Homo sapiens: one gene and its partners. The protein of the gene in region 2 interacts with the protein of the main gene of each other region in a pairwise test. Each region holds a gene or a part of one and is shown on either strand. Other genes may lie near its edges. The genes, in order: FKBP6, CCDC198 and PDE4DIP.

Region 1 (3,653 bases), on a different chromosome or scaffold from region 2:
ATGCCATTGCCCTATAGCCTAGGTGACAGAGAGGGACTCCATCTCAAAAAAAAAAAAAAAAAGTGACACCCTCCCACCTCTCTAGGGGTTGTTTATTTGCGGTAGGGGAAACAGAAAGGTGGGCGATGATGGAGATGTATAGTCTGGCAGTCTGTCTCACCTGCTTGCTGGGAACTGCTGGTGCAGCGCACGGCCGAGCACTTCAGAAACCCAGCTGTAGAGGGGGCGGCCTCCTAACACTCTGGGCAACACCGCCAGACTGTCCTTTGTTGGGGGGGGTGGGGGGACAGACCAGAGTCACAACCCCACCCATCTCTCTTCATGCTCCTGCAAACACAGCTCACCTAGCCAGTTTCTTCAGCTCATTATTGATGTCATGATTGAAGGGTTGCTCCTTCTGGGCTCGAACTAGAAAATCCCGGGCCTTTTGATACTCAGTCAGGAGAAGACAAGCCTGTCCCAAGGAGAGAACTTTAAAAGCACAGTTAGAAAAGATATCATTTGGCTGGGCACGGTGGCTCATGCCTGTAATCCCAGCACTTTGGGAGGCCAAGGCGGGCGGATCAACTGAGGTCAGGGATTCCAGACCAGCCTGGCCAACACGGCAAAACCCTATCTCTACTAAAACTACAAAAATTAGCTGGGTGTGATGGCGCATGCCTGTAATCCCAGCTACTTGAGAGGCTGAGGCAGGAAAATTGCTTGAAGCCAGGAAGCGGAGGTTGCAGCGAGCCGAATTTGCGCCACTGCACTCCATCCTGGGCAACAAGAGCAAAACTCTGTCTAAAAAAAAAAAAAAAAAAAAAAAAGACAGCATTTTTGCAGTAGCTGAGTTGAGCACTGCTACTACCTTTTCCTGGGTGTTTATTCCCAAGTCACTGGCTTCCAACTCACCTGTCCACACCTGAAGAGGGCCTTGGCATTCTTTTGGTCAATGATCAAAGCCTGCTCTCCATAGCACAGGGCTATGGTGGGTCGGTCTAGCTTCAGGTATGTAAAGGACAGGTTCAGGAGAACAGGAAGCTTGGCGGCCTCCACCAGGTGCTGCTCTTCAGGGGGTGCTGATCGCCGGCGCAGAAGCAATAGGGCCTGTGGAGAGGGAAGGCAGATGGTCAAGAGGAGTAACAGTCTTATGTACAAAACCCTAAAGAATCCACACGCAAAAACTATCAGAGCTAAAAATCGGCTGTTACAGGTTGCAAGACACAAGATCAACATAAGAAGTCAGGTATATTTCTTTTTTCTTCTTTTTTCAGACGGAGTCTTGTTCTGTCGCCAGGCTGGAGTGATCTCAGCTCACTGCAACCTCCGCCTTCTGAGTAGCTGGGACTACAGGTGTGCACCACCATGCCCGGCTAATTTTTTCATATTTTAATATGACCATTTTGGCCAGGATGGTCTCGATCTCCTGACCTCGTGATCCACCTGCCTCAGCCTCCCAAAGTGTTGGGATTACAGGCGTGAGCCACCATGCCCGGCCAAAAGTCAGGTATATTTCTATGCTCTAGCAACGAACTACCCAAAAATGAAATTAAGAAAACAACTCCATTTACAATAGCATCAAAAAGAATACAGTAAGTAGCAATAAACTTAAAACAACTGAAAGACTTGCACACTGAAAACTACAAAATGGTTGTTGAAAGAAATTAAAGATGATTCAAATAAAATGGAAAAATATCTCATGTTCATTAATTGGAAGACAATATTAAGATGGTAATATTTTCCTAACTGGTCAACATATTCATGCAACCCTACCAAAATTTCAACAGCCTTTTTTGTAGACACAGACAAGTTGATTAGATAATTCATATGGTGGCCAGGCACAGTGGCTCATGCCTGTAATCCCAGCACTTTGGGAGGCTGAGGCGGGCAGATCACCTGAGGTCGGGAGTTCGAGACCCGTCTGGCCAACATGGTGAAACCCCATCTCTACTAAAAATACGAAATCAGCTGGGTGTGGTGGCAGGTGCCTGTAATTCCAGCTACATTGGAGGCTGAGGCAGGAGAATCACTTGAACATGGGAGGCGGAGGTTGTGGTGAACCGAGACCACACCACTGCACTCCAGCCTAGGTGACAGTGCAAGACTCCACCTCAAAAAAAAAAAAAAAAAAAGAGTCACATGGAAATTCAAAGGACCCTGAATAGCCAAAATACTCTTGAGAAAGGACAAAGCTGGAGAACTCATATTTCCCATTTCAAAACTTACTAAAAGACAAAAAATAAACAAAAAACACGAAACTTCCTAAAGCTACAGTAATTACGCCAGTGTAGCACCGGCATAAGGACAGACATGTAGATCAATGAAATTGAACACAGAGTCCAGAAATAGATTTATATATCTACAGTCAACTGATTTTCAATAAGGGTGTCCAGACCATTCAATGGGAGAGAACTGTCTTTTCAACAAATAATGCTGGGACGAGAGACTATCAACATGCAAAAGAATGTTTACCTTGCACTAGATGCAAAAATTAACTAAAGTGGAGCATAGCCCTAAAAGTAGGAGTTAAAACTCTAAGACTCTGCGCTGGCTTCGGCAGCACATATACTAAAAATTGGAAAGACAGGGAGAAGATCGCATGGCCCCTGTGCAAAGATGACATGCAAATTCATAAAGCATTTCATATATTTTTTTAAAAAACTATCAGACTTTAGAAGTACAAATAGGTGTAAATTTTTGTGACCCTGGATTAGAAAATGGTTTCTTAGATATAACACCAAAAGCACAAATAAGCAAAGAATTAGACTTCATCAAAATGTAAAACTTTTGTGTTTCAATGGACACTGCAAAGAAAGTGCAGACAGCCCACAGAACAGCATAGAGCATTTGCGCATCCTGTGTTTGTTGAGGGTGTAGTATCCAGAGCACAGCAGCAACATTTACTCCTCAGTACAAAGACAGATGACCCAACTTTCAGATATGCATAGACTCCGAATAGACATTTTTCCAAAGAAGATAGACAAATAGTCATTAAATGCATGAAAATATGTCCAATGTCATCAGTCATCAGGGAAATGCAAATCAAAACCACAGTGAGATACCACTTCACATCCGCTAAGATGCCTAACTTTAAAAATATAAAATAAGTGTTGGTGAAGATGTGGAGAAATTGGAAGCTTCGCACATTACTCGTGGGAATGTAAGATGGTACAGCTGCTGTAGGAAGCAGTTTGGCAGTTCCTCAAAAATTTTGACAGTTCCCACACAATCCAGCAATTGCACTCCTAGGCACATACCCAAGAAAACTGAAAACGTGTTCACACGACAACTTGTACATAAACGCTCACTGCATCAGTCATAATAATCACGAAGTGGAAACAACCCACATGTCCAACTGATGAATGGACAAAAAGCAGCAGAGCCATCCAACGGAAAAGTAGCCTTACAAAAGAACGAGGGTCCGGGTGCGGTGGCTCATGCCTGTAATCCCAGCACTTTGGGAGGCTGAGGTGGGCGGATCATCTGAGGTCAGAAGTTCAAGACCAGCCTGGCCAACATGGTGACACCCTGTCTCTACTAAAAATACAAAAATTAGCCAGGTGTGGTGGCAGGTGCCTGTAATCCCAGCTACTTGGGAGGCTGAGGCAGGAGAATCGCTTGAACCTGGGAGGCAGAGGTTGCAGTGAGCCGAGATCGTGCCACTGCACTCC
Region 2 (3,653 bases):
TGCTGAAGCAAATTTGCCATGTGACTGCCGGCAATATATCTTCATATGCTTCATTCTCTCTAACCACAAGATGAGGCTATTTTGCCTTTTCTGCTTCTAGGGATGAGGCAAGACTTGCAATGAAGCATGCAAAGCATATTAAACCCATACAAAGAAAGAGACATTTAATTACCAAGCTTAAGCTTCTGTCTTTTCCTCCCAGCCATCCAAAATTACATGACAACATGCCCACTATATTCTGGGAAGTAAAAATCTCAGCAAGAGCTCAAAGCTGTTTGCTGTCTTCTCATCATGTCCCTCCCTTGGTAGTTTATTTGATGAAGTTTTAAAAACACTTGAAATGTTTTACTAAAAAATTGTACATGACTCACCGGGACCTCTGTTCAAGATTTCATCAGGCAACATGGTTAGAAGGTCATGGTCATCATTCCTTGGGGTGCTTTGAAGGGTTTTCTTGGCTTTATGGTCCCTTGGACTTTGCTTATTAATTCTTGCCTCTCCATGAAGACTTTTCTTTAACTCCATTTGGGCCTGAAAATCATCAACTATAAATGATCAATGTTCTTCCCAAGCTACTTTCACCAGACTAGATCAACAGATCAGCCACTTTGCAAGTTGTGTGCTTATCTGTAGACATCTGCAGTCCTCTAACCAGAACATGGTTTTCTTTTTCCTATTAGAAGGTATGGGAACTTTATTTATTGACAGGCTTGTTAAGAGAAAGGTGAGTGCACCCAGTCTCAAAAAGGTATGGCTCAATTAAGATGAGGACCTTTACAAAAGTGTGTTTCTGTCAGCTAGCTGATATGATTGGAGTTCCAGAGAGCAGTAACTAAAGGCTCATTTCCTAGAGGGAGGAATTTGGAACATGACAGTTACAGGCATTACTGGTAAAGGGTTTTTTTGTTTGTTTGGTTGGTTGGTTGTTTTTTTTACAAGAGGTCTTTCTTGTTAGATAATTCTATGGCAAGAATTATAGAGAGAGGCCTAGGTATCAGAATAAAGAACAACTCACCCCCTCCTCCTTTCACTAAACCAAGAAAAATGATCTAGCCCCATTTTCCTATGTCCAGAATGTCATAGGAGCAAACTGTTTTTAAAAATGGAGACTTGCGACACAGATACACAGATACAAACTTAGAAAAGACTCAACAAGGTTATCAGCAGAAGGAATCTTCCTGATTCTTCTCAGCTTTAGTAGTTGAACCTTCAACCTCAATGACGAAATTTAAAATGCTAAGTAAAGACTGGCTATCTATGCTTGATATATTCATGTGGCAGGGCAGTGATTATGTGATGAAAATTTGGTAAATATGACACTCTTCTCGTATTTACCTCTTGTCTTTTACGGATCATTTCCAGCACTTGCATCTTATGCAAATATTGTCTGTTCTCAGAAGTATACATTGGAGTTTGCATTTTCTTTTCTAGTACCTGCTATGAAAGACAACACACTTGTTAGTATGGGGTAATTTGTTACTGACTCTGCAATTCACAAGTTTAGATCCTTTTTGAAACAGAGTCAGATCTTAATCAGTCATAACCTGTAGAGATATCTTGTGATGACAAAAGTGGACTATCGTGTGTCCCTGACAAGTCCTTTGTGTCACTATCAATGAATGAAGTGGCTCTTTGATGTGTATATATGTAGTTTTTTAGGTTGCTATAGAGTTTTGTAAACCTTAAATGGGAATATCTTTCCACATCTCATTTTTGGCAAGATATCACTTCCTTTGTAAACAGATGCTTATTACCACCTCTCCAGAATTGTGTTCTGGTTTGAGGAAACCTTTCTTTTTCTCCCTGCCTCTTTTACCATTGAGTAATTGGCTGGCTATGAAATGAGAGGGAAGCTGCTGAATGGTGAAATGGAACCTATTTCTATAGAGTGCATTTCCATATGCCAGCATAAGCCTTGGAGAATATTGCAGTTTAGGGAGGATTTGAAGTTGATTATTTGTGACTCTGAACATCTCCCCGCCAGTGCATCATAAACTCCAGTGGGACAGTGCAGACGGTTATTGAGGGCAGCCAGAGGTCAATATACCTTCATTTGTCATTTGCTGTTGCCAGGAAAGATGATGTGTTTGACAATACCTTTTGTGTTGCTGTGTGGATAGTGACTGTCAGCTGATGTGAACCTCAGGGAGGGGCCATCTCCACAGATGCTGTCAGCACCACAAACGTGGGCTTGAGGATGTGACAGCACCTGGACATCTTTGTCAAGTCAGCCAGCCACACAGCAGCACCTAGCAAGCTCCAAAACAAATTAGGAGTGGAAAGTGTTGAAAATCTGCTTCTACCTCTAAGCTTTCATTTCTATGTGAGGGGAGTTCTAGTCAACAGAACATTATAAGTGCATAGCAGGGAAAAGATACACAGAAGACATTTCCCAGGATTAATTTTTGGTGAGGTTGTGTCAAATAAGTCAGGAATAACTTGTAGATAAGATTTCTCCTGCAAACTGAGAATAAAAAGTTTTAAACTGAGGGGAGGAATGAAAGGGAGGACTTATGCTGAATTTTTCACAGATTTGAAAACTTCAGAATCACCAATTTCTAAGTAAAAGTCTTTTCTCATCTACATTGCCCTGGTTTTCAACACAAAGCAGAAAAGGGTGCAGAGCTCATGCAAGAGGTAATAGCCACTGCCAGTTGGAGGCATGCACAGAAGAGAATAAATAGCTTTGAAAAGTTCTCACTCTGAATGACTTAACAGTTTGATTTGTCTTTGAACTCCTCCATGCAGAGAGTGCATGAAAGGACCAGTGTGCTCCAGTGCCCCAATCCTGTGTCGCCCACCCCCAGTTCACCTCCCTGTCAGGTTACTGCTGCAGCTCACCTTTGCTTTGTGCATTGTCCTGGCTTCTCGCTGGCTCAGGAGTCTTCCTGAAGTAATTACTCGTGGCAAGTCAATGGGTTCAAGCTTCTAGAAGTTCAACGTTTAGAGCAGTCAGCATTCCTCATGCCATGAGATGATGAAACAGAAAAGCCAGACATTAAATTATCTTAACACTTTGCAAAAGCGGCACTTATTTCTGAGAGCATACAGGAAAGGTGATTCTAACAGCATTACAGTTATATTGGTACAAAGGGCTTTTCAACCTATCTGGGTTCTTTATTATTCTAGTGCACTGTCGACAGTGCCTTATTGATCTAAGTGTTGGTCAGAGAGTTAGGAGACTAAGATACTCTTCTGTCTGCATTAAGGGACCATGTCCAAAGTTATCAAACCACCAGGATCTTAGAATATTAGAGATAAAAGAGGCGCTAGGAATTTATTTTATTTCACACATCCCTTAGGTACCCAGCTGAACTATTCCAGCCCTTAGGGAAGCAATCTGTTTTTAAGATCTCTAGAGAAGCTCCTTAGTAGTAATCACTGGTGATTATGAGACACATTTAAAATGAAACTGCAGTGTGCTAACACATTTTAGAGATGTCCTTTTCTAGCAGGGGCTTGGCTTGATAGGGGAGATCATGTTGGCATTTCAGGGGGTCACTAAGACTGGGCAGCAATTCATGTCAACCGGTCTGCCTCCAGCCGGATCTTGATCACTGAGAAGTGATCAAGCAGGTTTGGGAGACAAAGTCTGGTCTCTTGACATTGACATGCAATGGGGAACGTGGAGGGCCACAGAGTTTATGTGTTCC
Region 3 (3,653 bases), on a different chromosome or scaffold from region 2:
TTGGGCAAGTCTCTTACTTTTCCTGAGCCTTGGCTTTCTTGTATATAAAATTAGGGGGCTGTGGTAGGTCTCAGGTTGCTTCATGCTCTGGGGTAAGTCTGAGTTAATTGCGGGCTGAGATGTTGGTAAGAGGTAGTATTAGGAACTGTTGTGAGGACCAGACCTAGCCCTCAATTAAGTGTGTTTCCTGCAGGAACACCATGCTGAGCCTTTGCCTTGAGAATGCGGAGCTGAAAGAGCAGATGGGAGAAGCAATGTCTGATGGATGGGAGATCGAGGAAGACAAGGAGAAGGGCGAGGTGATGGTTGAGACTGTGGTAACCAAAGAGGGTCTGAGTGAGAGTAGCCTTCAGGCTGAGTTCAGAAAGCTCCAGGGAAAACTGAAGAATGCCCACAATATCATCAACCTCCTCAAAGAACAACTTGTGCTGAGTAGCAAGGAAGGGAATAGTAAACTTACTCCAGAGCTCCTTGTGCATCTGACCAGCACCATTGAAAGAATAAACACAGAACTGGTTGGTTCCCCTGGGAAGCACCAACACCAAGAGGAGGGGAATGTGACTGTGAGGCCTTTCCCCAGACCCCAGAGCCTTGACCTTGGGGCTACCTTCACAGTGGATGCCCACCAAGTAAGTGTGGGCTTAGATTGAGTGAAAAACAATTGGAGAAGGGCTTGAGATGACAGTGTTTACCTTAAAACATTCTCCCATATGAATCAGGAGGTACCAAGAGAAGGGTCTCTTTGTACCACAAACAATAATAGTAATATTCTGCCTACATTCAGCCTTTAGAAAGGCTTTTATAACATAAATATTTCTTGAGTACTTAATTTTTCAGATAACACACTAGGCATTGGCATGGGGCAATAAAACCAATGGCTGCCCCTGAGATACTTAATATTGTCGGGAAAGATGGCACACAAACAGGTAATTTTAACAGGATGTGGTAACTGCTGTAACATAGGGATGCATCAGGTTATGAGGCAGCCCAGACAAGTGGTATGTAATGACATCCCTTATCACTGCCATTTTTTTGTCACAGCTCATCACAGGTGTCTGTTCCTGGGCTTCAGATGGGTTACTGGGATCCTCTTTAGGGAAGGAGCCATGCTGAAGATTCAGTGAAATGGAGAATACAGGGATTCTGAGAGAATCAATGGGACAGAATGTGAGGGGAGATGAGTGGTCTCTTTTTGACCACTGAGAAAACATTTCCTGAGAGCTCCTCTGTAGACTTGATTGGTGCTGTGCTGTGTGCTGTGGATACAGATATGAAGAAAACATTATCCCAGCGCTCCAGGAGCTCCATCTGGAAAGCAAGTCACTGCCAAATGGCATGAGAAGTGCTGTGACAGACTTGAGTAAAGTCCACAGGGTTCAGAAGGGGCGGTGGTCGTCACTGCATGGGGGTGACCTCAGACTGTCCTGATCCCTGTATTGGCCCCTTTCACAGTTGGATAACCAGTCCCAGCCTCGTGACCCTGGGCCTCAGTCAGCGTTTAGCCTACCAGGGTCCACCCAGCACCTGCGCTCCCAGCTGTCACAATGCAAACAACGCTATCAAGATCTCCAGGAGAAGCTGCTGCTATCAGAAGCCACTGTCTTTGCTCAGGCTAACGAGCTGGAGAAATACAGAGTTATGCTTAGTAAGTAACTATGACTTACTAGTAAAGAAAACTAGCCTATATGTCTTATAAGTTCTGTATGTTCTATACCGACATAACGTGGTTATTGAGCACACGAAGTGTGGCTAGTGCAACTTGGACATTTGGTTTTATTTAATTTTAGTTGATGTAGTATAAAGTGGCCATATGTGGCTGCTAACTACCTTATTGGACAGTACAGGTCTAGGGTCTTGGGACTCTAAATTAGTTCAGCTCCATTCAACATTTATTGAACCCCTGCGGATAAAGCACTTGCCAGCTTCAATGGGGCTGCTAGAGATGATAGTGTACAATCCCTGACTTACAGATATCTGGTCCCAACTAAAGCCTGGGTTATCTGAAGGGGAGATAATGGCAAATGCAGGCTCCTCCTTTGGAAAGAAATTCTGCTTCCTGGAGCTGGTGATCTCTTCTCCCACCAGTTCAGAGAAGCTTCTCTCCCACTGTGGATCTGCCTTCCGTGCCTCAAAAGGTTAGGGTATGTGCCATTGAGGCTGAGGGCATATGTGGGAAATTCAGACATTCTGTAACACCTGCTTCTCTTCCCAAGCAGGTGAATCCTTGGTGAAGCAGGACAGCAAGCAGATCCAGGTGGACCTCCAGGACCTGGGCTATGAGACTTGTGGCCGAAGCGAGAATGAGGCTGAACGGGAGGAAACCACCAGTCCTGGTAAGAGCACAGGGTGTGGGGCTCACCCCTCCCTGGAGTCAGCTGTCACATTTGGATGCTGTTGGCCAATTCCACACCTGACAAGTATTGGGGAAGAGGAGGACAGGAGGTTAATAGGAGAAATCTTACCCAAAATGAGGCTGAGTATAAGTTTGAATTTCTACAATTAGTTTTTGGCATACTGCTAATAACAATAATAATATAAAATTCTATCCAACTGATTATTATAGAAATACTAAGGCCTACTTAGAGACCAGATAAGGTTTTAGAAACATGCAAGCCATAAATTAAAAATAATTTTGTTTTGCATTATAAAAAGACTACAACTATAGGGCCACCCACCACATTGAAAACCAGAAGAGAAGAAAAACACAATCTCTCTCATTCTTGAGGCAGTGTAGTGTGGCAGTTAAGAGACAAGATCCTGGGGCCAGACTGGTTGGTTCAAATCCCAGTTTGAAAACTTTCCTATGTCCCAGTTTCTTCATGTGTTAAAATAGTAATAAAGGAACTACCTACCCCATCAGGTACTAAGGTCAATTAAATGAGTAAATTCTTATAAAATGCTTTAGAACAGTGCCTGGCATCTGGTAAAATGCCATGGATTAGTTCTCATTCTGACTACCACTGCCCTAATACACTGATGTTAACATGCTGATATATTTATTTGAAGCCTTATTTTCCTATGCCTATTTTTCATACAGTTGTAACCCAATAAACTTTTAAATTATAGTAAAATTTAAAGAGCATTAAACTTTCAGCATGCAGTAATAGCTTGTCCTACATTCTTGTGGCCATCCTAAATAGATAAGGCCATGTTAATGTCTTAAGAAACACCAGTGTGTGTGGAATGAACACAGGACATTGGAGGATTTGAATTCTGGCTCTGCCATGTGCTAGTTTGAGTGATCTAGAACAAGCTAGTTTACCACCTCTCTTTAAGTTTTGGTTTCCCAGTCAGTAAAATAGAAAGTGATGAAACCTAACTTGTAGGTATAAGGAAGATAAGAAATATTGTATTTGAATGCCTAGTACAGTGTCAGGGTTGAATAAAGTACTACTTCAACTTTTTCCCTAGTAATTATTGTCCTCATGACCAAACCTGCCTCCTCTCAAAGGCAGTGGCCACAACAGCACATCCAACTTTTATTTAGGAAGACATCTTTGTCTTTTTTCAGAGTGTGAGGAGCACAACAGCCTCAAGGAAATGGTCCTGATGGAGGGGCTGTGCTCTGAGCAGGGACGCCGGGGCTCAACACTGGCTAGTTCCTCTGAGAGGAAGCCCTTGGAGAACCAGCTAGGGAAGCAGGAAGAGTTCCG

What was found.
Region 1: the proteins of CCDC198 (region 2) and FKBP6 interact in a two-hybrid assay, tested with the Homo sapiens proteins (one large-scale study listed by BioGRID).
Region 3: the proteins of CCDC198 (region 2) and PDE4DIP interact in binary tests that used the Homo sapiens proteins (3 or more experiments, as listed by UniProt).

Annotation. Positions count from the first base shown.
Region 1 is NC_000007.14:73,338,074-73,341,726, reverse strand, and holds part of FKBP6 (inactive peptidyl-prolyl cis-trans isomerase FKBP6), read right to left. Parts: intron 1,090-3,653; coding exon 895-1,089; intron 472-894; coding exon of another isoform or gene 455-471; coding exon 345-454; intron 1-344. UniProt on the Homo sapiens protein: Has an essential role in spermatogenesis. It is required to repress transposable elements and prevent their mobilization, which is essential for the germline integrity.
Region 2 is NC_000014.9:57,480,224-57,483,876, forward strand, and holds part of CCDC198 (factor associated with metabolism and energy), read right to left. Parts: intron 2,962-3,653; exon of another isoform or gene 2,929-2,961; coding exon 2,842-2,928; intron 1,438-2,841; coding exon 1,336-1,437; intron 532-1,335; coding exon 372-531; intron 1-371. UniProt on the Homo sapiens protein: May be involved in tuning the metabolism, energy expenditure, and excretion processes.
Region 3 is NC_000001.11:149,001,398-149,005,050, forward strand, and holds part of PDE4DIP (myomegalin), read left to right. Parts: intron 1-193; coding exon 194-629; intron 630-1,452; coding exon 1,453-1,645; intron 1,646-2,213; coding exon 2,214-2,333; intron 2,334-3,511; coding exon 3,512-3,653. UniProt on the Homo sapiens protein: Functions as an anchor sequestering components of the cAMP-dependent pathway to Golgi and/or centrosomes.